Homo sapiens: one gene and its partner. The protein of the gene in region 1 purifies or fractionates together with the protein of each later gene. This does not show direct contact. Each region holds a gene or a part of one and is shown on either strand. Other genes may lie near its edges. The genes, in order: ARHGEF16 and ATP1A2.

Region 1 (10,060 bases):
TGTCTTGGCCCTGGCCCCAGCTCCAAGTCCCGGCCCCTCCCATCCCAGCTGTCTCCCTACGCAGATCATTCAGCCCTCTCCTGGGGCGGGGGCCCTGGGAAGGGACTCCTGGCGCCCGCAGCTCCCTGAAGGGTAGTCTGAGCAGGGCTGGCCCTCGCACGCACGACGGCAGGGCCCTGCATGGGCAGGGTGACTCTGAGGGCACAGGAGGGAGACCCCCAGGTCTGCCACCCACAGCCGAGGGGCTTCTGGGAAGGCTGCCCACCCTCCCTGGGAGGACTGGGCTGCTGCTGGGGACCAGCCGCCTGGGCTTGGGGAAGGAACAGCAGGGGGACTGTGGCTTCTCCCTGCCTCTGTGGGGCAGCCTCACCCACCCTCCGGCGCTACCTCTGGGAGCTGGCTCCAGGTGACCTGGGCGGGCCGGTAGCTCTTGACCACAATGGTGGCGTCCACCTTCTGGGTTCCCTCGGGGCTGGAGGACTCATCGAGGATGTCGTCATCAGACTCCTGGCTGGTGTTCAGGCCCCGCTCCTGGATCTCCTGGTAGAGCTGGGGGTCTAGAGAGAGAAGGAGGGTAACCTGTGGCCCTGGGGGATTGCAAAAGGCTGCGCCTCCCTGCAACCCGCCAGCTGAGTCCTCTAGGCCCACAGGCTCTCACGGCTGTGTGGGAGAGGGAGGCTTTGGGAGGGGACTGCCCCAGGCTGGGCACCAGTCCCAAGACCTCTCCTATGCCACAAGTCCCACCTGAAATGGGCTGGTCCCGGCTCAGGGTGCCTCCAAACCCTCACAGCAGCCCCCAACCAGCCTTACCCTGAGACGTGGGGCATCGCTGCTGCCTCCTGGGGACACTTCCCAGGGATTTCCGTAGAGGAGACCTGGGTACCCCCTCCTGGGCCCATGCCTGTCCACAAAGCTTCTGGGGGCTGGAAGGGGCCATTGTGTCTTGGAGCCTCAGGCCTGGAGCTGGGCACTCGAGGCCTTAGCCCTCCCCGGGCTTCATTGCCTCTAATCTCTTTACACCCCCGGGCATTTGGACCCAGGTAGCAGGCACCTCCCTATGTCAACCTCCCTGTGGGATGTTCTCATCTCCCCCGAGCAGGCTGAGTGTGCACCACCGCCACCCATGCTGGAGGCCCCAACACATGGCTCCCCTTCAGCCTCGAAGAGTCCGGGCAGAGCCCGCGGTGTGGGGCCGGTGCCCTCTGATCTGGCCTTGGTCCCCCAACACGGCCACTGTAGGCTGGGCCCAGCACACACATGGGGTGTTCAGGGCAAGACTGGGGGCTCTGTCTGTACCCTGCCCTTCAGAACACACAGAATAGAGTCCAAGGGAACTTTCTAGACCTTTCTAGACTCATCAGGGCTACATGAACAGACCAGCCACTGGGACCTCAGCCTCTGGAAGGACCCTGTCAAGCAGCTTTGGTGACCCCGAGACACCAAACTGAGGCCCACCCGAACCCCAGGGTGCCCCAGTGAGACCAGTTTCAACTGGAGCCCAGCCCGCGGTGCCTCCCGAAGCCACACTCACCGTCCTTGAAGGAACCCTTGTGCCCACGTTTCCTCCCCAGCGTCTTCTGCACAAAAGAGAGACACAGAAACCGCAGCTGTCAGCCGGGGCAGGTGTTGCCCACGGCGATTCTGCCCTGGGACCCCAGAGACCTCTCGGCTCCACATGCGAAGCTGTGCCCAATAGATGTCAGCTCCACAGGGCCTCACGGCCGCCAAGCAGAGGCCAAGAGAGGTGGGAGGAGGGCTCAGAGCAGGCAGGACACGTGACTGAGGGCTGCTTGGAGGAGGAGGAAGGGTTGAACTCATCGTGAGGGGACGCTCAGAAGAGTTTCGAGCAGGCCCGTGGCAGGGCAGGTGAGGTTGGGAGAGGGCTGTGAAGGGACAGTGGGGCAGGACACAGGCCCCTGGGGACTAGGACCTGGTGGGACAGACGAGCAAGGATTGGCCAGTGTCCAGCCCCAAGCATGGGTCTGGGGGCCCCAGCAGGAGGCCGGGATGGCAGAAGTGACGGGAGGGCTGGGCTCCTGGGAAGCCCCCACGCTCAGGTGCCCGACTCGGAGCCCACCCTCCTCGGCTGGGACACCACACTTTCCTGACGCCACAGGTATGCTGGTTCCCGGAAGGAAAGGGGCTGATTTCTCGGAACGAGTTGGGGCCTGTAAACTCCCCTTACTGGTTGGGAGTGTGTGGTGCTCCCAGCTGTACCTGGCCTGGCACCCTCAGCCCCGTGCCCCGCACCCCACCTCAAGGACTCCCCCAGCCCCCCTTCGGCCTCCAGGTCTGGCTGGAGCTGTTGCCTCCCCCACCCCGACTCCGTCCTCTCCTCCTGTCTGCCTCTGCGCTAACCCTCCTTCCTCCGGGACCCTACCCTGACCCGAGGCCATGGGGAGCCCCCTCCTCTGTGCTCCCAGCACCCCCGAGCTGCCCTCAGCCCAGCCCTCGGCATTCTCCCTGCGCTGGAGGCCCTCTGAGAACCAGGCCCATGCCCGTGGGCTCACTTTGGAACCCCAGCACCAAGCATGTGGCAGGTGCCCAGAAGTGTCTGCTGACTGCATGAAATAAACAGTGAATGAATGAACGGAGCCCCATGGGCCTGGGCCTGGTGGGTGTAGAGAGTGCTGGGGCCCTTCCAGCTGCTGGGGTGCAGGGGCCTGCGGCAGAGGTGCTGAGGCATTTCTGAGTCCTGGGCGTCTCAGGTAGGCACAAGAGAGAGCTGTGACCGAGGACAGTGGCTGGTGCTGGGGACATGGGGGACCCCACCTCAGCCACCATCGGCCTGCAGTGGACGCCCATGGGACATTCTGACAGGTGGTCTTGGCGTCTCCTGAGGCTGGCACTGCCACTCCCAGTCTGGGCAGGAGCTGGGCCTGAGGAGGCAGCTGGGACGGCAACCAGTGAAGAAGACGCTCTGGCACACACCTTCCGTGGACACTGCCCAGAGGATGCCCAGAGGGCGGCTGTGATCTTTGCTTCCACATGGGGAAGCCAAGGCTCAGGAAGGTTCAGGAACTCATCTGGGTCACACAGCACCTGCCCCCGCCCTCGTCCTTCACTGAGGCAGCCCATATGCTTGGGGCCTGTTTTCCAACACGTCTGAGCAAGGCGCCCAACAAGAAGGACGCCCCTGGGGCCAGCCCTGCATCTGCTCTGCATTCTTGAGGGTGCTCGGGCTGCCAGGGCCTCCTGATGGGCGGTTCCAGGGCAGCTCGCCTCCCCTACCCCAGCCCTGCCTGAGCCCAGACCCACCAGCTAAAGAGACCAAGCAGGGTGGCCAGAGTCGCAGTCCTGGCTGGGTGGGTGTCCAGGTACCACGCAACTCTCCCTGAACGTGGCTTCCAGCTCCAGGGCTGCCTGAAATGAAGGCCTGGCCCCCAGCCGCAGGGGATGGTGACTCCGAGGATGAGGGACACTGGGCCCAGGAGCCCCAGCTGGACGCTCTGTCCCCTGGGCCCTAGTGACACATGCAGTCAGGCTACACCCTGCCCAGCAAAGGGTCTGCCGCCACCATGCCCCAGACCTAGAGCCACCACCAGCAGGCAGGGAAGCAGGGCTCTGTGTACAGAGGGAATGTGCAGACTTCTCCTAAGCCCCAGGCCACCGCACAGCTGCCCCGCTTCAGTCCCTCCCGCCTGAGTCCCTGTCTGGAGCTGCCGGGGCAGATGGAGCCCAGGCCAGTCACTGCAGCCAGGTCACCCTGAACCCTATCATCCAGGCAGGCCGGCTCCTGTCCAGAGCTCGGAAACAGGGACTGGGCCCTTCCAGGGATCTGCCCTCCACCAAGGCTGGGAGCGGGGACACCAGAGTCTGGGGGCCTCGGTAGAACCCTCGACCTTTCCGAGCCTCTGCTGCCTCATCTGTAAGGTGGGATCTTCACACTCACAGACTGGGCTGAACTGGAATAAACCAGTCGAGAGCCCTCATGCAGCAGGTGCTTACTAACGGCAGCTGCCATGATGCAGAAGATGACGGTGGTGGAGACGGCCAGGCCGCCCCTCTGCCTAGCAGCCCCCTCCCCACGGTCCACACGAGCAGGCCCCTACCTTGTTTTTGGCCGGGCTCCGAGTATGAGGCTGGCTGGGTTCCTCAGCCAGAGCCTGGAGCTTAGGGCTTAGCTGGATGGCATCTCCCTGGCCACCTGGCTTCCCCAGGCCCTTCATGGCCGCCCGGTAGGATTGGTTCCGCAGGTTCCGCCTCAGCATGCCCCCGGGGTCCTTGTCCACGTCCATGTCATCCAGGGAGAAGCTGGGGGCTGGGAGGAGCTTAGGGTCCCGCCGGGCGGCCTCCCTGCTAAGTACAGCCGCCCCGAAGCTCTGGTGGCGGGCTGGGGTCTTTGCCTTGCTGGCCACAGCCAGGCTCTTAGGGATCAGCTGTTGGGTGCCCAGCTTGAGGGCCGCCGGGCTCTCTGTGCTCAGGACGATGGGCCATGGCTCCTCGTGCCCCGGGGGCCGAGGCTGTGGGGGTGCCGGGACCTGGGGCTGGAAGGCGGCATCGTCTCTAACACGCGGGGAGCCACGGACCATTGGGAGCCCGGAGGCTGGGTTCCCCCCGGCATCGAGCCGGAGCTCCGAGTGGAAGCGGTGTCCCAGGAGCTTCTCCTCCAAGGAGCTGTCTGAGTGCCGCTGGGCCATGCTGGGCGGCTGTGGGGTCCTGGGGGAAGGGCAGAAGTGAGGTCTCGTGAGGCTGCTCTCCCCTGCCCCCGCGGGTGTCCACCCCCCTACCCCTTTGCATATGTCTGGCCGGGGCTCCAGTACAGCTCCCAGGACACAGCAGGCAAGGACAGCGACGCAGCCAGGAGCACAGTGGATCAGTGGCACAGCCAGTCCTGACCACTGGGAGCCAGCCATGTCTGAGGCCGGAGGCTGGACACAGGATGGGACTGGGCAGGCGCTGGTTCTCCGAGCTCCAAGGGACCAGGTGGGCACAGCCTATGGGGGTAGGCTGGACCTTGGAGGTTGGGAGGCCACACTGCTTCCTCTGATGGGCAGCACGCACTGAGGACACATTCCTGAGCCTGGAGGCAGGTGGGGCAGCTCAGGTGCATGGCCCTGGAGCCCTGAAGACCTGGCCTGGAATCCTGGCTCACACCTGGCAGCCATGCAGCCTCCTGGAACCACTTCCTCGTGGTGAACGCAAGGGTCATGGCGTTGCACTGGGGGGCTTCCTGAGGCCGGCATCAGCCACAGCGGCAGTGACCACAGCCTCTGCCTCATTGGGGTCTTCCAGGCACCTGAGCCAGGCTCTGCTGGGTTGGGGGGAGGGCAGGTGCATTTGCCCACATGCTCCCGGCCCGAGCCCAGGCCTGTGTGATTCCCCTCTCTTAGCCACACAGTGATATGACTGTCGCGGACTGTCCATGGAACCTTTCCACACACCAGGCAACACGCTTGCATTTTTCCACGTTTCTGAACTGGGCATAAAGCTGACAATTCTGGTCTCAGGAGCCCCACCAGTCACCAGCCCGAGAGTCCAGTATGACACCTGGCCACTGGGCAGGTGTGGTGGTGGCAGGGGTGGCAGCCCACAGTCCCACGTACACCCCCCAGCAGAGAGCGGGAGCTGCCCTGTAGACATCTCTGTAGCCCGATCCCCACACCCCGTGGGCTGCCCCGCCCCCGCCACACTCCTGCCCGCCCCTCCTGGCAGCGCGTGCCCCCGAGCCCATCTCTACCCCACTGTTCCCTTCATGGTCCGGGGCTGGCACCCTGCCCCTGACACTACTGCTTCCCATTTCTCACTTTCCTCCTTCCAGACCCGAGGCAGGGCTGCCCTTCTGCCCCTTGGGAATGGCACAGTCCTGAGACTGGCTTTGGGACATACGTGCCTGCCAGGTAGGAATGTGGAGAGCCAGCTCTCGACCTGCCTCTGCGTCTTCCCTGGCTGCCATGACTATAGGCACGCGTGGCCAGGCAGAGCCTCAATGGCCTGGACCCCGTGTGACCGAGATGTGCAGAGCCCCCAGCCGACACGGCCTCCAGGAGCCGGGCCCAGAGGTCTGTTTCCAGGCACTTTGCGGGGCTGTTGTGGCTACACATCACCTCCTGAGTGACGGCGCATTGCTCGGCCACAGCGGTCAGGCCCACAGTGAGCTTTCACGCCCCGGGCTGCTTGCAACCCCCCTGGGCACTTGCAACCCTCAGGCCACTGAGCAATGGATTCCGAGGGTCTGGTCTCTCAGGCCTCCCAGCTTTCCCCTCTGCTGCTCAGGGGCTCCCCACACGTGTCAGGGAGCAGCCCTGACCCAGGCATGTGGTCAATGAGCAAGTGACGCTGCCTCTCCGTGCCTCAGTTTCAAAATCTGCAAAATGGGCATGATAAGAGCAAGGCCCACCTCCTGAAGGTACGGTGGGAAGTGTAAAGCGTGCAAAGCGTGTAACAGGCCTGGCCGGTGTGAGGCCTGCGTCTGCGCCGCAGTGACCAAGGCCTTGCCGAATCACAGACAAGCTCATGCTCCCTATGCTCAGGGAGCTTCGTAGGTTCAAAAGGTAACGACATGGAGAAAACTCGCTGCTTTCATTCTTTCCCTTTTAAAAAATAAAGATAAAAACAATAACCACCACCACTCAGTATGCCTCCTATACACCCAGAACGTCACACACATGAAAATGACCGGAGTCTCTTGCGGGTGGAAACTGATTTTTCTGATGGGAAAACAAGGCTGAGTCACTCGCCCAAAGTCACTTCCTGCAGGGAGGTTGCCTACAGTCAGCCACACAACTGACCTGGATTAGCACCTTTGGAGTGTCCACAGGGCACCTGGGACACCCCTCTGTCCCTGCTCAGCCCCGGGAGCCACCAAACTCTCCCAGGACACAAATTCTCTGCTAAAACCATCCCAGGAAGGCACGTGCGGCTGAGCCTCCCAGGCCCCAGGGAGGGACGGCCCCCACGCTGGCCGGGAGGGTACATTCCTCAGGACATTCCAAATCACTGGTCAAGGACAGCGGCAGACACAACAGGCCTCCCCCGGGGCTGGTGTCCATGACACTGACCAGAGTGACGCTGGTCTGCACCATCCCAGGATCACCCGCTCACAGTAGGGTGTCTGCGTTTTACCCAGGCCCGGCCGAGAAATCCATTTCTTTTAGGCTTCTGTCTACACGCCAAGCAGAGCACACTCCAGTGGGTGGCCAGCGTAGGCGGTCTACGGCCCTGCGGTCCTTTTATTCTAAATGTGATGACTTTACCTGGGGGGCATTTGATGTGGGTTGACATGCCCACAACATCACTGTGCCCCATCTCCCACCAAACAAATGTCCCCAAGACCCCACAGCCCCCAAATACAGAGACCCCAGCCTGCACTGTCTCAACCTTCTGACTCTCATAGAGGCCTTCCTCCTTCCTAATGGGGCCAGACTGCCCAGGCCTGACTGTCCCTGACCACGTCCTCTGAGACGGTGTCCTGGCCCTGGCTGGCAGCAGCTGTCCCAGGAGAGATCAAAGTCTGCTCCACTGCCAGAAGGCGCCCAAACGGGAACCTGTCAGGCGAGCCAGAGCCTGAGCCATTGCTGGGTGTGACCTCCGCTCCCAGCGAGGCAGCCGCACCCACAGGCCTAACAGAGAGCCTGAGGGGTGTGGGCAGTCCAGAGCCCCCCAGGAGCCGGCTCTCGGGAGCTGTGGCCCTGGCAGGCACCCGTTGCCTTCTGTTTTTCAGTTTTTCTAAAGAACTATGAAGACACAGACACCGTTTCAAAAGTCAACGAGCACCAAAGACTTAGCATGAAAACCCAGCGTCCCCTCTTCCACACTGCCCTGATCCCCGGAGGCCACTGCTCTGGGCTCCTCAGCTTTTCCCAGAAAAAGGCACAGCCTGCTCTCAGTGACCCCCACCTATGGGCATTCCTACCCCCTCCCTGCCTGTTGGACGAGGACTCCATCACGGCTGGCCCCATCACACGATGCCTGTGCCGGCAGAAGGCGCTGAGCCCCAGGGCAGGGCCTTGTCCACGTCCTGTTAATGATTTTCTCTCATTTGACCAGCCTGGTTTCCCCAGTTAATTTTTCCCTGAGTGTTCTGGCGTCTCTGCCATGTGCTTCTTGAGAATATATTCTATATGTCTGGCAGGCCAGCTCAGTGTTTTTCCCAGACACCCCCCGTCCTCCCTCTCCAGAGGGCCCAGTGCTCTGGGCCTCACCCTGGGCGGATCCCAGGACCTCCTCTGCTGCTTCCGGGGCCCCTCTCACCTGCTCCCGGCCCTCATTGCCCTGAAGGACATCCCCAGGCACTGTCCCAGGAAGCCACATGGGAGCCATCTTTTGGACTGCCTGAAAATGTCTTGTTTCTTCCTCTCCCCTGACTGGTGAGGAGATGAGCATTCCCACTGTAGATGGTTTTCTCCCAGAGTCGGGCAGCGCCCTTCCCTTGTTGTCAGAGTTGCTGGGGAAGGGCCCCAATGTCCCGATCTCTTTCTCGGATCACAACCGGTGTGTGGTTCTCCCTGGCCCCACTGAGGGTCTGGCGCACCTGCTGGAGCCTGGGAGCTCTGGCTGTCTTGCTGATGTGCCTCGGTAGGGTCCGTGTTCGTTCACTGAGCCAGCCTGGGAGCTCTGATTGTCGTGCTGATGTGCCCCCGTAGGGTCCATGTTAGTCCACTGAGCCAGGCACTGGGTGGAACCCTGCCAGGCGGTCACTCTTGTCTAGGGCTGCGCAGATTTTCATATTATTTCTTCCACTCTGTTTTCTCTTTTTGGAATACCCACTAATGAGTATTAAGCTCTGGTGTTTTCTCCTAATTCCTTACCTTTCCTCCCCTACTTTGTTCTCTGTGTGAGGTTTTCTCTACTTGGACTTCTTATTGGCCCCTGGTCTTATCATTTTCATTATCCTCAAAGAGCCCTCTGCTCTTCATTCCTGGCATCCTGCTCTTGCTTTATGGGTGTAACATCTTCTATTGTCTTAGAGAGGAAGGATTACATTTTCTTTGGAGCGAGTTTCTTTCTTTCTGTCGCTGGCTGCTGGAGCTGCGCCCCTGCCACATACTTCCTCCTGTCTCCGCCTCTGCTGGCCTCTGTCTCTCAGGCACAGGGCTTTCCTCAAACATCTGCTGCTGGTGGTTGATTGTTTCTGCTTCTATTGAGGAGACAGGCCTTATGATGGCGGGAGGTCCAAGTGCACACACCCTGAGCACAGGTGTCTGACCGGGAGGGCCCAATGGGACCCCCAGCCCCATGCCAGGTCCATATCCTGAAGCCTGTCCTGCAGGCCGGCTGGTTTCTACAGTGGCCTCTTTCCATTTCCTCACTGAGATGCTGGTCGGCTCCTGGTGGAGCCAGTGAAGGGGAGGGGCTGAGAGGGCAGACTCCTTTCAGCAGCTGGCCATGCTGTCCCGGCTGCAGTGCCACAGAGAGAGGTCAGATTTCCTGCAGCAGCCACGTGGGCCAGTGGCAGATCTGCTCCCCAGCAAAGGCAGCCCTGACTTGCTGAGTGGGGGCTTAGCACAGGGCATGCACAGGGCAGAGGGAGCCGCAGGCTGGCTGGCTGGCTGTCCTGTCTCCCCATGTCTGTGAGCCCTTGCGGGGCAGGGACAGTTTCCTGTTCGTGTCCCCACAGTCGGGCTCAGATTCCACACTGAAGAGCAAATGCCTGCCTCGGCACGTGCTCTGCCCTGGTCTCCTAGTACCTTGATTCTGTGTCTTCCCAGAGAGGCCCTGGTGTTCCGTGCCAAGAACCAACTTGCAAGGGGACTTGGCTCAAAATGAGCAGAGGCTGGGCCAGGGCAGCCCCATAGAGGTTCTGGGCCCATCTGTGCCACTTTTTGGGCGACTTCCTGCTGCTTCTCCTCAGGGTGGGCTGGAAAGGACCTCCCATGGCTGAGCCCTGGGGCCCAGAACTCTCTCTTTTCTCTTTACCACTAAATACCCCACCTGGTATCCCCAACACATATAGTTATGGGGCATGAGGGACTTGCCAGGAGGAGGCGTGCAGCAGAGGCGAGCAGGCGGAATCCATGGTCTCTGGGCAGTCTCAGGGGCCCCCGCCTGGCCGGTCCAAGCAGGTGGAATCTGTGGTCGCTGGCCAGTCTCAGGGCCCCCTGCCCAGCCTGTCCGTTCC
Region 2 (16,041 bases), about 160 Mb from region 1:
AGTGACCTCTGAGTTGACAAAAAAAAAAGTGACCAGCTTTCCTTTCCCCCTGGCATCTGAAATCTGAAACTGTTAGTTTTTTGCCCCTTAAAACTTGTTCCTCTCTCAGCTTCCTGGCCCCTCTACTCGGCCTAATTCTCCATCTCTCTGGCTTCCCTACCTTGCCATCTTCCAGATCCTCTTCCTCTACCATAGGTGTTACTACCCAGGATCCTCAGACCTCTGTCCTCTAGCTCCCCTGCCTGGGCCATCTCCTCTGCTCTCCTGGCTCAGTGTTCCCCTCCATGCAGGGGATTCCCATGGCCCATGCCCTCTCCCAAGCTCCAGTCCCCATTTCTATCACCCCCCACGTGCCTTCATCTGAAGCCCTGCCTGGAGCACCTCAACCTTCATATGCCCCCATGCAAACTTGCGGCTTATTTCCCAATCTCCTTTCTCCCCTACCCTTATTTTAGTTAACTTTGCACCAACGTCCTCACCACCCCCACCATCTCCAACGGCTTCCTTCCTTACTCTGATGTCCAATCAGCTGCCAAATACTGAAATTCTACCTCCCAAACATCTTTTTCATCCATCCCTGTCTCCTCTCTGTCTTGCTCCAGACCTTCACCACCTATAGCCCCCATCAGTCTCTCCCTTCCAGCCCAACATCCCGTCCACGTACAGGCACACACCCTGCCATCAAATGAGCCTTCCTAGAACGCAATTTCAATGAGATTACTCCCCTGCTGAAAAACTTTAAGTGGCTCCATATTGTTTATAGCGATATTTCTCAAACTTGCTTGGTGGTAGGAATACAGGTTCCCACTCTCCACGCCCACCCTCATGAATCAGAATCTTGAAGAAATGTACCTGTTCTTTTATAGTTTTAACAAGCACCCAGGTGATTCTTATCATCAGAGCCTTTTTAGGAAACACTAGCAATTAGAGTGGCAATTACTCTGGCATTCAAGGCCCTCCATGAAATGGCTCCAACATCTATTTCCAGTAGTACCGCCCATATTCCTTCCTTGTGCAGAGTGCTTCTGCTGTCTGTGCCTGTGCTCACATTGTTCCTTCTCCTTTATCTCTCTGAGTCAGATCCTACCTATCTGTCCAGGCCCAACTAGAATGCCACCTCTTCCATGAAGACCTTTTTGATTCTTCCAACTGAGAACCATCTCCCCCTTCTCTGGGCTCCCACCACCCTCTAAATGCTATGGTGAGCAACCAGCAGCCAGCAATACCTGGCTCAACACAGATGCACAAGAGTTGGCACTTTTTCTTCCCCTTTATCTTCTGGAGCACTCCTCACTGTCACCACTGCATCCAGACAGTTCTGGTCATTTACTCCTGGGGACAAGAACCCAAAGGAGAAGCTTCAGTGGGTCCTTACAGCATGGAAGTTAAATGTGCAGGCTCTGGAAACAAACTAACCAGGTTTGAACCGCAGCCCCCCTACTTGGGTAAGCTGAGGATCTATGTGCCTCAGTTTTCCCATCTGTAAAATAGAGTTGTGAGGACTAAGTTAAGTACTACATGCTGTCTTCATTAGTTCTGGAGACTGGGAAGTCCAAGATCCAGGTGCTGGCAGATCCAGTATCTGGTGAGGGGTCCCTTCCTGGTTTGCAGATAGCCACCTTCTTGCTGTGTACCCCACATGATGGCCAGCAGAGAGAAGAAGAAAGCTCTCTCATGCCTCCTCTTAAAAGAGCACTAATCCCACCCTCATGACCTAATTATCTCCCAAGTGCCCCACCTCCTAATACCATCACATCAGAGGTTCAATCTGTAAATTCTGGGGAGACACAAACATGCAATCTACAATAAGTGCTCACTAACCGTTAGCTATGATGAGCTACAGATCTTAGGGACAATATAGTTCAGTGGTTCTCAAATCTGCCTGTTGATTCATCTGGGGAGTTAAAAAAAATACCGATGCGGCTGGGCGCAGTGGCTCACACCTGTAAGCCCGGCACTTTGGGAGGCCAAAGTGCGTGGATCACGAGGTCAGGAGTTCGAGACCAGCCTGGCCAACGTGGTGAAACCCCGTCTTTACTAAAAATACAAAAATTAGCCAGGTGTGGTGGTGCATGCCTGTTATCCCAGCTACTCAGGAGGCTGAGGCAGGAGAATCGCCTGAACCTGGGAGGTGGAAGTTGCAGTGAGCCGAGATTGTGCCATTGCACTGCAGCCTGGGCGACAGAGTGAGACTCAGTCTCGAAAAACAAAACAAAACACTGATGCCTAAGCCCCACCTTAGATCAATTAAAAACATGGTACCTGAAGATGAGGCCTGGGCATGGGATGTTAACATGAAGCTAAGGGTGAGAATCCTTAGCTAGTCCAACCCTCCACCCACTACTTTATTGACGAGAGGTAAAGGACTTATTCAAGTGCGCACAGCTGGTTAACTGTAGAGCAAGTCCCACACTGAAAGCCTCTGCCCTCCCTCTAGCCTAATCCAGAGTGATTTCCAATACGATTTCCAATACGCCATTGCGCAGCCTTTGCTCCCGCGTCATTGGGTTGGGAGAATCATCTAGGCAGGAGGCAGAGCCAGGCCCACTCAACCTCACTCAGCAAAAGTAGAGGTAAAGAAGTGGGGAAAGTTTGAGGAAATGGAAGTGGGGAGTCCCTAAGGACTATGAGCTTGGGAGGACAAGGTCAAGAATGGATGGGGGGATTTTGTGACTAAATGGCATGAGATTCTGAGAGAAAAGACAATGAGGGTGGGGATCTTGTTTGCCTTGATTGTAACTGTCTTTCTAGTACCTTGCACAGAATATAGCATAAAGTACGTGCTCAACAAATGTTTGTTGAATGTCTAAATGATGCAATAACATCAAAAAGCACATGTTCTGTTTATTAAGTCACCCAGAGGGCACTCACATTCCTCAAGGGGGCAGTGGTGAGAACATCCAGAGGGGAGCACAAAAGTAAAAGAATCTTGGACTTTCAGAGACACTGAGGCACAGAGGAGGCCAAGCTCCCTGAAATTCCGAGGAGAGGCTGCTATGTGGGAGGGAGGCAGTGGCCCTGTGTGCCAGATGTTTGCAGGGCATCCTGAACTCTCTGAGCATACAGAATGCCACAGGGGACAGGCAGATAAACAGAGCTGTATCCTGGGCCAAGTGGAGGGGGCCTGGTAAGGGAAGAGGGAGGTGGGAAGAAGGAGGCTGGGGGCCAAGCCAGCTGCCTCTTGATAGGGGGAGCGGGGAGGCGGGGTGCTCTGGGCCAGTGGTTGGTTCAGATCTCTGGCCAAAGCAAACCTGCCTCAGGGGGCTGGGGGACCTCTCCCTCCCTGCCCGGATGGAATCAAAGGCTAACAGGAACCCTGGAGGGTCCAGCTGTGACCCTTGCTCCTCACACTCAGCAGGGCCCATTAACCCCGTCCTCCCCATATCCTCAACACACTTTTCCCAGCCCAAAGAATCTTTGCAAACAGACTCCCCTGGTATTTGCTGATCAGATACCAGCCAAGAGATGTCAGGTTTTCCCAGTCTCACCACCAGCCCTGCCTTCCTCCCCCAAAGATACCCAGACCCTGTCCCACCTCTCACAGCGGTGCTCTGTAAGAACCCAGGGTAGCCTTTGCTCAAACCGGAGCCCTTCCTTTTTTCCATGCCAAGAGTTAAAGGGATTCGATTCATTTCTATGAGTCATAATAATAAACAAAATAGGAGCACCTGCCTCCATGCTCACAAACAAGACAGGACAACCTACCCTCTTGGATCTCCTTCTGAACCCAGGTCTCCAACTGATGGTTCTCACACAGGTACAACCTGCAGGTAACTCCTGCTGTTTACCTGAGCTGAGCTGTGCGCTGAGGCAGAAATAGCCTGGAATTTGGGGATCATCAGAACTGGAGAGGGACCTCAGAGATTTTCTTTTTTTTTTCTTTTTTTGAGACAGAGTCTCGCTCTGTCACCCAGGCTGGAGTGCAGTGGCGCAACCTCAGCTCACTGCAACCTGCACCTCCCAGGATCAAGCCATTCTCCTGCCTCAGCCTCCTGAGTAGCTGGGACTACAGGTGTCTGCCACCACGCCCAGCTAATTTTGTGTGCATGTGTATTTTTAGTAGAGATGGAGTTTCACGCATTAGCCAGGATGGTCTCAATCTCCTGACCTCGTGCCTCCCAAAGTGCTGGAATTACTCACAGATTTTCTCATCCCGTTCCTTGTCATTCAGATGAAGATGCCAAGGTCAGAGTAGAGAAGCCTCTTGTCCAACATCACACAGGTGGTTAGTGGCTTCAGCAGGACTAGCCTCAGCTGACTTGACTTTCAGGCAAGAGTCCATTGCATTGGACCACGGTGGGGACTGTGAGAGGACAGGAGGGAAAGCAGAGGCACAGAATAGCCCAGGCCTTCATGCTCCTGGGAAGGGTTGACATGGGTTCCCTGGGCTACACCATGGGTCCTTTCCTTTTTCTCCCTTGGGACTTCCACGTGAAGAAGGCACAGGCAGAACACAACATGGAGCTATCTGAATCCAGAGAGAAGTAAGAACGAAAGGAGGTGGGAATGCAGCACAGGCAGAGGCTGGGGAAAATGCTTCTGGGTGCTTTTACATCCTATTTTCTAAATTCTATACAGTGTGGTTTTAACAATAAAGAGGATAATAAAAATACTCTGGGGAGAGATTAAAATGACAGAACCAGCTGGGTGTGGTGGCGCATGCCAATGGATGCACAACTCTGGAGGCTGAGGCAGGATGACGGCTTGAGCCCAGGAGGTCGAGGCTGCAGTTGATCATGCCGCTGTACTCCAGCCTGGGTGACAGAGTGAGAATCTGTCCTTTTTTTTTAAGGGAGAGAGAAGAAGAATTGTTTTTTTTTGTCTGTTTATTGTTTTTTGTTTGTTGTTGTTGTTGTTGTTGTTGTTTTTGAGACAGGGTCTCACTTCGATTGCCCAGGCTGGAGTACAGTGGTGCAATCTTGGCTCACTGCAGCCTCTCAACCTCCCTGGGCTCAGGTGATTCTCCCACTTCAGCCTTATGAGTAGCTAAGACTACAGGTGCATGCCACCACGCTCAGCTAATTTTTTCGTATTTTTATTAGAGACAGGTTTCACCATGTTGCCCAGGCTGGTCTTGAACTCATGGACTCAGGTGATCTACCCACCTCAGCCTCCCAAAGTGCTGGGAAAACAGGCATGAGCCACCGCGCCCAGCCAGCAGAGATTTTTAGAATCTACTTTGAGTAGACTGAAAAGAAAGACCATGTTGAAGGAATGGTTTAACAGATAAAGAAAAAAAATAAGATAAAAATAAAAGAAAGACCAAAAAGAAAACGGAGGAGCAGATGTTAAAGGAGAGATGGGGAGAAAATTCAACACCATCCTTGTAGTCCAGTGAGGAAACTGACACAGCAGCAGGACTTGGACAGCCACTCTGGGGCTCTGAGCCCAACCTTTTTATTTATTTATTTATTTATTTATTTATTTATTTATTTATTTATTTTTGAGACGGAGTCTCGCTCTGTCGCCAGGCTGGAGTGCACTGGCACGATCTCGGCTCACTACAACCTCCGACTCCCTGGTTCAAGCGATTCTTCTGCCTCAGCCCCCCGAGTAGCTGGGATTACAGGCATGTGCCACCACTCCCAGCTAATTTTTATATTTTTAGTAGAGACGGGGTTTCACCATGTTGGCCAGGATGGTCTCAAACTCCTGACTTCATGATCCGCCCACCTCGGCCTCCTAAAGTGCTGGGATTACAGGCATAAGCCACCCCACCTGGCTGATCCCAACCTTTTAACAGGTCACTATAACCTGAGGGAGTGGGAGGACAGAGGGCTGGAGAGGCAGGGAGAGTGAGAAGTCATCTTTCTTGGACACTTGTCATGGCCAGTCCAGGCCTTCCCGGCTCCCCTCATCTCATCCCCCAAGGTGGGCTCCCTTTGGAAGCAGAAAAACTCCACCCACACTCCCAGAAGACCTCAGAAGCCTGATAGCAGTGACAAGACCACAGGCCCTAAAGAAAAAAAGAAAGGAGAGTTAGAGGGAATGGAAGAAGGAGAAGAAGGAGAGATGCCCAGAGGGGGGTTGGCAGCCGAGAGGAGGACCAGAGGAGCAGGGCTGGAGAGCTGGGCCCAAATCAGGACTGGGGGAGAGAAGTGGGGTGCCGGGGCGGGAGGAGGGACGATGGGGGTGATAGAGCCTCCCAGCTCTTCCTTCCCTCCCACTCTCCCTCCTCCTCTCTCTCTTTCATGATCTTGAAACAACCTTCAAGTCTGGGCTGGAGGCCCCAGGAGGCCAGTCACTTAGGAAACAAAACTGTTTCTTGGAGACCTTGAAAGCCCATCTGCAGCTGAGCAGCGTCCCCACCCCCTCCCTGTGCACACACACATTCTCCCATGGACTCTCACGTACACCCACACCCGGCTTCACATGAGCTCCCCAATGGCCCACATGCACGCACACACGGACTCCACACTTGATCTTAGCCAAAAGGCCGAGAAGCGATGCGCACTCACGGACTCACACGCACCTCTGTACTCATGCTTGCATACAGACAACCGATTCATAGCAGATTGGCCACACATCCGAATGAGTGTTGTCCTCTCCCCTGAGGAGCTCCTCCTTTGGAATGTGGTTTGGTACCACCACTCCGTCTCATACCTCACACAGGACCCAACGCTCAGGTCCTCCCAGTCATTAACTAGCACACATCTGTACACAGGCACATGCACACTCCTGTCTCTCTCCAACTGTCTTGGTCTCTCTCTCTCTCTCTCTCTCTCTCTGTCACACACACACACACACACACACACACACACACACACACACACTTCTTACCAACCAAATATTTGATTCAGGACCACTCCATCCCCACTTTGCCCTTGGTGGATCCCCCTCCTGATCTGTGACTTTCTCAGCCCACTCCCCAGCCCAGGCATCTTGGCCTTCCATCCTCCTGCTTTCAAGTCTTTCTTTCTCTCTCCTTTGCTCCTCTTACTCCAAGGGCCTTGATCCAAACTGGTACTGCTGACTGTGTCTGAAGAAACAGTAGCCCAACCCAGGCACTCCAGATCAAACGATCAGGTGTCTACACCTGTTAATATCCTGGAGGCTGAGGTTCATGGTGGACAAGAAGGAGGTAGACCACTCCAGAGCCTCAGCTCTCACTGGGCAAGGAGGGTGGTCAGTGATGCACGGTGGAAGTATAGGCCCTGGGTGTCCTGCCCACTCTTTGATTTCTCTGAGCCCTAAATATGTGAGCAGCAGCGCCCCTCGGGCTGTGCTCTCGCCCAAATGCAGGGCATGGCAGGGAGCCCCAGCAGGCTGTAGGGGCAGAGGAAGGGCACATCCTTTCCGGTATTGAGTTTGGCCACAGGGACCAGAGCCAGGGCCTTTGGAAGGACTGGGCAGTACTGGGAGGTGCCAGCAGGGGTGAGGGGTGGGATGAAAACTGTTAGAGTGCTTGAGGTTTGCACACCTTCAGATTCGGGGACTGACGTTTTCTCTCCTATCTCAGGTTGTGTTCTGGAGAGGGCTGGGCAGAAGATTACCCAGGAATTCCAACCCAGGAACCTACGGAACAGGCGCTTCCTAAACCCCAATTTATCATGTTGTTCCCACAGCCCCCAGGCAAGCCTGCCCCAATGTTGATCTCCCTAGCTGCCTCGGGGCCACTCTGGAGTGACTTTGCTTTAGACAGTCTCTCCTGGTGTCTAACCACAGGCTTTCCCGCTACTCCCCTCTCACTCTCTCCTTAACACACAGGGGCTGAACTGGTATCTGTTCCCTTCATTGTTTCCTCCCTCTGCCCATTCTCTCCCAAGACCAAATCTGAGCTCGGAGAGGGGGGCCATGAGAAGGCCCTGTTGGCCCCATCCTACCCACCCTTTCTGACTGTAACCCAGAGAGGGAAGGAGCGTGGAAGTGAGATGTGACCTACCAGGTCCCTGTAATGGAAAATCTCAACTGCAGGCCCGGAGGGGGCCAGTTATTTAGGGAATTCAGATGTTAGCCTTGTGCCCTGAGAGTGGATTTGCTAGAGGAGAGGCTGATAATCCCTCTGCAGGGAGTTCCCTCTGGGGCCAGAGATGGACCCAGCCCAGCCAGCAGGCACCTTAGGCCTCTGGCCAAAGCCCCCCTTCCCTCCCTCCCTTCCTCTCTGCTTTCTTTGCACTCAGGACACTTAGACCTGCCCCACTCCGCTGGCTTCCCCTCACTCCATCTCTGTGCCCAGAGAAACAGGGGTACTCCAGGGGAATCCTGTCCTCTGACTGTTCCCAGTAGAAGGCGGGAGCAGAATTTTTTCTTTTCTCTCTGCCCCTTCTGGGTTCCCCTTCCTCTCTGTGCCCCTCATCCTTTGGATTACTCATCAAATGAGCAGCAACAACACCCCTAGACCAGCTGGTCCTGTCCTGGGTCATCTCGTTGTCCCCAGTTTCTAGCTGGTATAAGGTTAAAGATACCCTTTCCAGCCCCAGGCAAAGCCTTAGGCATTTCTGGGATTGCTCCTGACTCTGATGGGCATCCTCACTCCTCAGACATTTCCAATCTCCCCCACTTCACTGCAGAGAGGCCTGTTCTCCAGCCTCAGTCCTGCATGCTGCAGCTTTGCTTCCCCTTCCCCACTGGAAGAAGGAAACAGTCGCTCTCCTTTCCCGTTCACATGTCTGATATTTGCTATGATATTGACCTTCACACACATCTTAGAGGTTCTGTATTTTCCTCTCTTTTGACTTCTCCCTATCACTACTCTACTCAGGCATAGATTCAGTCTAGAGCTCTTCAACAGCAATGAAACGGTAAACGAGGGGTAAACAAAACCCAGAGATGTCATCAGGTGCCTGCTAGGAGTCCCACCCGTTCCCCTCTAGCCCTGGCCTGCCCCTCCCTACCAGAGTCTTGATTCTCCTTCAAAACTTTGGAGAGGTTACATCTGGCAGGGTTTGGGGACACCCTCTTGCCTCCATCTCCAAACTTCCCGCTGCCTCCCGAGCCACCTTTGACTCCTCCTGGGCCCCCCTTCCAGGTGCCTCAAGTGCAGAGGTCAGCCTTCGGTTCAAATTCTATTTCTGGGCTTCAGTGTCCCTGCAACCTCTATAATAGAAGGAACAGAGTGGTCTATGTTTCTTTCTTTCTCTGGGAGATTGGATGTAGACTCGGGAGACCTGAGTTCTGGCTCTGTCTTATCAATTCAAATTGTTTAATCTCTCTGAGCCTCAGTTTACCCACTTGGAAAAGAAGAGTTAGGCCACATGGTCTCTGTCATCCTGGGATTCTGAGTCAACTGCTCCCCTTCAGCCAGATCCAAGGGGGCATATCCCCCCAACCTGGGACCCAGGCCCCCTTCCCTTGCAGCCTCTCTCAGTTGTGAGTGCCACAGGCCAGAGGGGGTTGAGAGGAGCCAAGGGGGGGCATGCCGTGGGACAAACGGGCTGTCTAGGGCCAGTGGCTAAAGGGGCGGGAGGGGAGGAGTCCTCAGGGATCCTGTTTCAACAAACGTTTCTTTCGGAGGAGGGGAAGGCGGGGGAGAGGGGGAGAAGGACCTATTTAAAGCTACCCTGTTGCTTTGGCTTTCTCTGTCTGCCAGGGTCTCCGACTGTCCCAGACGGGCTGGTGTGGGCTTGGGATCCTCCTGGTGACCTCTCCCGCTAAGGTCCCTCAGCCACTCTGCCCCAAGATGGGCCGTGGGGTGAGTATCCCTAAAGAGCAGGGGTCGCAGTCTAGAGGGTGAGGGAGGCTGCTGAGGAAGGATGAAGTGGGAATGGGATGTGGAAGGAGCGGGAGAGAGGAGCTGAGTGGGATACTTGGAACTTGAAACTAACAGTCTCCAAACTACCAATGTGTGTACAGATCCCACGGCGGTCACATACCCTAGTGCTCTCCTCTCCTCTGCACGCCCCAGCCCCCTGCCCACAGTTAGACCCACAGCCCACCACACATGCCCCCTCCATCTCTCCCTCCACCCCACTCCCACATCTCTAGTCCTTCCCTGCAGCAGTCCCTCCTCTCACTGCATCTCCCGGCCTCCCAGCTGAAAGGATGTTTGGCACTGTGAGTCCTCCTGTCTTTGCCACCTCCTGAAAATATCCATTCCTCTGGGAGTCCTAGCCTGAGAGGCTGGGGGTCCATTTTGAGGTTAGAGAGGGGCAGTAGAGCATCCGGCTCCCAGAGTCACCAAGTAGTTCCGGACACCAGCTCCAGGGGCCCTGAGTGCCAAGGACAGCTGGGCGGGGTGTGGGGAGGAAGAATGATGACCCAGCCCCCACCCCAGCACCCCTCCGGATGTCCCGAGCAGCATTGTCCGTGGGTTCCAAGCCATGGGCTTTGAGGACTTTCCCAGAGGCTGGTGACAGGTGACCCCCCCCCCAGTCCACCCGTCCATGGCATTCTGCAGCAATGGCTACACCAAGAGGAAGATTAACAACAATGGGGCGGGCAGGGAGAGGGCTTTGAATTCTTGGAAATGAAATTCCCATATGGAGAAGAGTGGCCCAATCCTTTTACATGCTGTGCCTGGCTGCTTTCCTTTTGTGGAATACTGGCAAAAGAGGACACAGAGGGAAAGGGCATGCTGCGGAACAGGAGGGTATGAGGAAGACTGTGCCTAGGGGGAGCCGTGGGTGTTTCTGGGCCCAGGAGGAGTCAGGCAAGGACATGTTATTGCACCTAGTTGAGCAGCTGGGAAATCCTGAGCCTGGACACCAGGGTTCCTGAGCTAGGGTTGGAGCCATAAATAGAATTGGAGTGCATGCATGTATCTGTGTGTCTGTGTCTGTGTGTGTGTGAGTGTGTGTCCTTGACCACGTGTTCTCCATAGGCGGGGAGTCCTGCAGTTACTCATGGATGAGTACCTGTGTTTGTGTCTCAGCAGGCAAATTTGTAAATGTACAAGCCTTCAAGCCTGCACAAGCATAAATGTCACTGTGTGGGGGTGCTTGAGAGTCTGTGAGCCTGCCCTTAGGAGCTGTGAGGTATGGGCTTCACGGAGGAAGAGGTCATAGCTGCAGGAAGATATACTGTCTTGGGACCTTCAGCTGCATCTTGACATCTCTGGCTCCCCATGGAAAGGGCATCCCTAGCTGAGATGCAGGACCTCTGAGAAGAGGCAGGGGTTAAAGGATCAGATAAGCCCTCCATTTCCCCCATCCAAGTGAAGAGAGAAGGAGGGGAGGTAGCCCCCTACCCTGCTCCATCTTAGAGCAAGGTAGACCCAGCTCAGGAGGTCTTGCTTGGGAAGTGATGAGACCTTGACTTTTCCAGTCTGTCTTTTTCCCCTAGCACCCCCAAACTCCCCTTAATCACCATCCTAAGTTGCTGTGGGTGATGCAATAGCAAGATGAGGAGCAGATCTGGGCTGTTTAAACTAAGAGGCTGGGTGAGGTGGGGGTATTTAGGGCCTGGAGCTTAGAGTTCAACCTACCAACGACCCCTGAAGAGGGAAGGCATCTGACACCCACAACCTGTTCTAGGGATGATTTTTCCTCCAATCCCTTCTCCCCTGCATCTCCACTGCAGAGGCAGGCTTCACTGTCCCCCCATTACCCAGTGGCTGTGAAGGGCAGCGTGGGAGTTGGGGGAAGGGACGACACTGGTGGGAGGGAGCCCAGCCTGCTCCAGCTACCACGGAGAGGCTGAGATGGGGGGAGCGTTGGCGGATTCCCAGCTGCCCCCACTCTGTCCCAGCCTCTGGCTTTCTCAAAAAGGACTCTCTGTTCTCCTTCAGCATTCAAGACCCAGAGAGGGGGACTTGTGGTTGGGGGAGGGAGGAGTGGAGGGAGGTTGGGGGGGTCCTTGCTTCCTCTCTTTCTTTCTTGCCTGGGCAGCCGCTGGCCCCAAATCTCTGCAGGCTCCTGGCTGCAGAGCCTGAGATCTTTGCCAGGACAGGAGGAGGGGGAAGGGGCAGTGTGTCTCAAGCTCTAAGCCTGCTGGAGAGCAGGGCGGGAGCTTGGGAAAAGGAGGCACTGCGTGGAGCTGCTTAGCTCAGCCACAATCCAGCATGCCAAAGTGCATGGACCAGCAAGTTTTTAAAAAGCATGCATTTTATTCCAATTTTTATGAAATTTATTTCACATCTGAATATACAGAAATTCCTCTGCACCCTGCTCTTCTGCCCACAGACCCAGCCCTGCTCCTCTGTGTATGCCTGGGCCCCCTTCTGTCCCTGAAGTTCCTGAGGGTCACACTGAAGCTCAGCCAGCCTGATCTCTTGCCTCTGTTCCCTTGATTGCATTTCTTCCTTTTCTCAGCTCTGTCCCACCACAGACAGTTAGTGAATGTAAAGCATTTCAATCCACTCAATTAAATGAATCCTCTTAGGTCACCTGAGAAAGGCAGAGGCAGAACCACTCACAAGCCTTTCCCCACCCCTTCCATTGGGCTGCTCGGTCTCCCCAAGAAGATCTGCCTTTAGGAGGCCAAAATTATACCAGATTCATAGATGCTTCAGGTGGAGACAAACCCACGATTTTACTGGTCACCTTTTCTGAGAAGAGCACTTCTGAGCAACACAGCCTCCAAAAGCTCATATCTTTTTAAATCATTGGTATCTTGGGAACAACAGTGTTGACTTCTCCTTGCATCCCCCACCCCTACCCTTGCTTCTGATTGTACTGGTCAGACTTCTACCTCTCAAGATGCTGAATTGGCGACCTCTTATGAACAAGGCAGCTGCCATACTTCTGGGATTGCTCCTGACTCTGATAAGTAAAAAAGGCATTACCCTGGAGCACAAAAGTCTTAGGGCAGTGAAGCTATTCCATATGATACCACAATGGCGGATACACGTCAGTATACATTTGCCCAAACCCATAGAATGTACACCAAGAGTGAACTCAAACTTAAACTATGGGCTTTGGACGATAAAGATGTATCAATGCAGGTTCATGATTGCAGCAAATGTAACACTCTGATGCAGGGTGTTGATAGTGGGTGAGGCTGTGCATGTGTGGGGGCAGGAGATATATGAGAACTTTCTCTACTTCCCACTCAATTTTGCTGTGAACCAGAAAATTGCTCCAAAAAAAGTATATTTTTTAAAATGCAAACAAAACCCCCAAAACTGCATTATCCTGCAAAAAAAAAAAAAAAAAAAAAAAAAAAGCAAACACCTTGGCTGTGGACCCTACCCAGGTATCCACTCTTTATGGGAAACAAAAGTTAACATCATAGTGTGGGAAAACTAATTCCTGAAAGCCTAGTGCAGACTTTGCAGAATCCAGTGGAGAAATAGGCACCAGGTGGAAACTGAGCAGCCCCTCTATGACAAGGACTCTATTTCCTGAGGGAAGTGGGAGGAGAGAAGACTGGGGCAGAAGAGGAAGTAAGAAGGTACCTTTTTGGGAACTTTTCATGGCTACCCAGGCCTTCCTCAGCCTCTATCCTATTCTATCACCCCAAGAGGGCCTCCTCTTAGAAGGAAAGATTTCCCACCCTGTCCCCAAGAAGTTCCCTGTGAGACCCTGGAAGGCTGGTAGTGGTGAGCCCACAGGCCCTGGAGTGGAAGGGAAATCAGGAGCCTCATAAGACTACAATTAAAATGTCCATCTGCTCAGGCGCAGTGGCTCACACCTATAATCCCAGCATTCTGGGAGGCCAAGGTGGGAGGATCACTTGAGCCCAGGCAATATAGTGAGACCTTATATCTAAAAAAAAAAAAAAAAAAGAAAGAAAGAAAGAAAATTGTTTTAAATTAGCTGAGCGTGGTGGTGCATGCTTGTGGCCCCAGCTACTTGAGAGGCTGAGGTGGGAGTATTGCTTGAGCCCTAGAAGCGGAGGGTGCAGTGAGCTGAAATTGCACACTGCATTCCATCCTGGGTGACAGAGTGAGACCCTGTCTCAAGAAAAAAAAAAAGGCCATCTGATTCACCAGATGACCCAGGAATGTCTAGACTTAAAAACTATATAAAATGTAGTTTTAGATTTACTCTCAGATACAATTTCTTATGTTTTGGGACAAATGGGGCTCAGTTCCCATGTTACCCAATTGTGCTTTGGGGGTCCAGTCCTGTGAGTTGCCTCCCGTCTAGTAACGGGCAGGCCTGCCCAGCAGGATGGAGAGGGCTCCCAGCACACCCCATGTCTCCACTTCCTGGACATGCCCTGACTCTCCAGCTACTGCCTCCTCTCAGTCCATCAGGCCTGCTCTTTCCATCCCTACCATTCCACCACCAGACCTGGCTCTCCTCTGGACACGTTCCTGCCTAATCCCCTGGCTCCCCAAAGACTCTTGCTCCCCCAAGTTCCTGAGTATTTCTACCCCTCTCTAAGTAAAATTGCCATGGTGTTGGGCTAAGACATTCCTACAGAGTGATTCTACTCCCTCAACAACCCCCCACAAAACCCTGTCCACTCCCTTCCAGAATTTTCCCAAATAGTGTAGGATACAGGTTTTCAAAATTTTTGTTTTGTTTTGTATTTAGCAGCAGGGTCCTTTCAACAAACAAAATCTTAGCAGAAGCCCAAGCATTAAACCACTCAAGTGGTGCTTTTCAGTCCTGAGCCCCTCACCCTTCTCTGAAACTCACATGGGAGCCCCTGGTTCTGCCAATAGTCTACAAACTGAGGGCCTAGGGTCCCTCACCCTCCATCCCCCCTATCTCCCCCAAGGCAGCCGCTGCTTTTGAACACACACCCCCACTGCCTGGGCTCCCTGGCTGAGTGGTGGGAATGGAGGCCCCAGCCCCTCTCTTCCCTGACTCTCTGGCTCTCCCTTCCTCCCTCAGGCTGGCCGTGAGTACTCACCTGCCGCCACCACGGCAGAGAATGGGGGCGGCAAGAAGAAACAGAAGGAGAAGGAACTGGATGAGCTGAAGAAGGAGGTGGCAATGGTGAGGGAACTGCTGGGCCATGGAGGAGGGGCCCCATGCTGGGAGAGCTGTCCCTGCAGCCCATTGCACTCAGAGAAACTCCGTGTCCCCCATGCTGCTCAACTCACCCCTGTGCCCTGCAGTACCCTCATATGCATCTTAGATACCTCCTCCCCAAAGTAACTCACCCTCCCTTCCCCAGGATGACCACAAGCTGTCCTTGGATGAGCTGGGCCGCAAATACCAAGTGGACCTGTCCAAGGTGAGTGGAGGGGCTTCTAGGGAAGGAACAAAAGAGGCAAGAAAACCATGCAGCATCAAGGTGGCAGGAGCCTTAAAACTGTAATCCAGCCTTCTTTACAGATGAGGAAACTGAGGCCCAGAAACAAGGACTGGCCCAAGGACATGCAGCTAGTTGGTGGCACAGCCAGAACTAGAATTTGGATCCCCTGCATCCTAGCCCAAAGCTCTCTCCCTGTATACCCTAGAAGCCAGGACTCCCTATGACCCAGGCCCCAGAGGGCCTCCAGGCAGGGCCCTTCCCTATACCCCAAGCAACTTCAGTTGCACACAGCCTTCCACAGAGCTGACAGCTGATGCACATGGGCTGACAGCCCATTCCTGTGGTTACAGTGATTTGCTGGGCCCCTGCTACATATGTGACATTGTGATAGATGCGTTACATACATTTCTCTAATCTTTACAACAACCCTTTGAGATAGGTATTGCAGACCTGTTTATTAAACAAAGGAGACTCAGAGAGGGAGAGTAACTTCCCAAGGTCACATGAACAGTAACTGGTACAGTCAATTGCTAAGCCCTTCAATTAAAAATTTGTTTAAAAATCATTAATCAAAAAATGCTGGGTGTGGTGGCTCATGCCTATAATTTTACCACTTTGGGAGGCCAAGGCAGGCAGATCACTTAAGGTCAGCGGTTTGAGAGCAGCCTGGGCAACATGGCAAAACCCCATCTCCACTAAAAATACAAAAATTAGCTTGGCACAGTGATGGGCACCTGTAATCCCACCTACTCGAGAGGCTGAAGCAGGAGAATGGCTTGAACCCAGGAGGCGGAGGTTTCAGTGAGCCGAGATCATACCACTGTACTCCAGACTGGGCGATAGAGTGAGACTCCATCTTGAAACAAGCAAACAAACAGACAAATATTTAGTGGGTGTATATCTCCTTTATGGGCCTTCCCTGACTGCTCTTTCTAAAATTCTATGCCCCTATTCCTTTACCTTACTTTATTTTCCTTAGTAACACTTTTCTATCTGGCACTAATATGTATT

Evidence for each region.
Region 2: the proteins of ARHGEF16 (region 1) and ATP1A2 purify together in Homo sapiens (affinity purification with mass spectrometry; 2 studies listed by BioGRID and IntAct, with this or other methods). This does not show direct contact.

Annotation. Positions count from the first base shown.
Region 1 is NC_000001.11:3,457,665-3,467,724, reverse strand, and holds part of ARHGEF16 (rho guanine nucleotide exchange factor 16), read right to left. Parts: exon of another isoform or gene 8,226-10,060; coding exon of another isoform or gene 8,194-8,225; intron 4,660-8,193; coding exon of another isoform or gene 4,641-4,659; coding exon 4,053-4,640; intron 1,578-4,052; coding exon 1,532-1,577; intron 924-1,531; exon of another isoform or gene 811-923; intron 558-810; coding exon 388-557; exon of another isoform or gene 375-387; intron 1-374. UniProt on the Homo sapiens protein: Guanyl-nucleotide exchange factor of the RHOG GTPase stimulating the exchange of RHOG-associated GDP for GTP. May play a role in chemotactic cell migration by mediating the activation of RAC1 by EPHA2.
Region 2 is NC_000001.11:160,106,243-160,122,283, forward strand, and holds the start of ATP1A2 (sodium/potassium-transporting ATPase subunit alpha-2 precursor), read left to right. Parts: upstream 1-9,516; 5' UTR 9,517-9,619; coding exon 9,620-9,631; intron 9,632-14,663; coding exon 14,664-14,768; intron 14,769-14,949; coding exon 14,950-15,009; intron 15,010-16,041. UniProt on the Homo sapiens protein: This is the catalytic component of the active enzyme, which catalyzes the hydrolysis of ATP coupled with the exchange of sodium and potassium ions across the plasma membrane.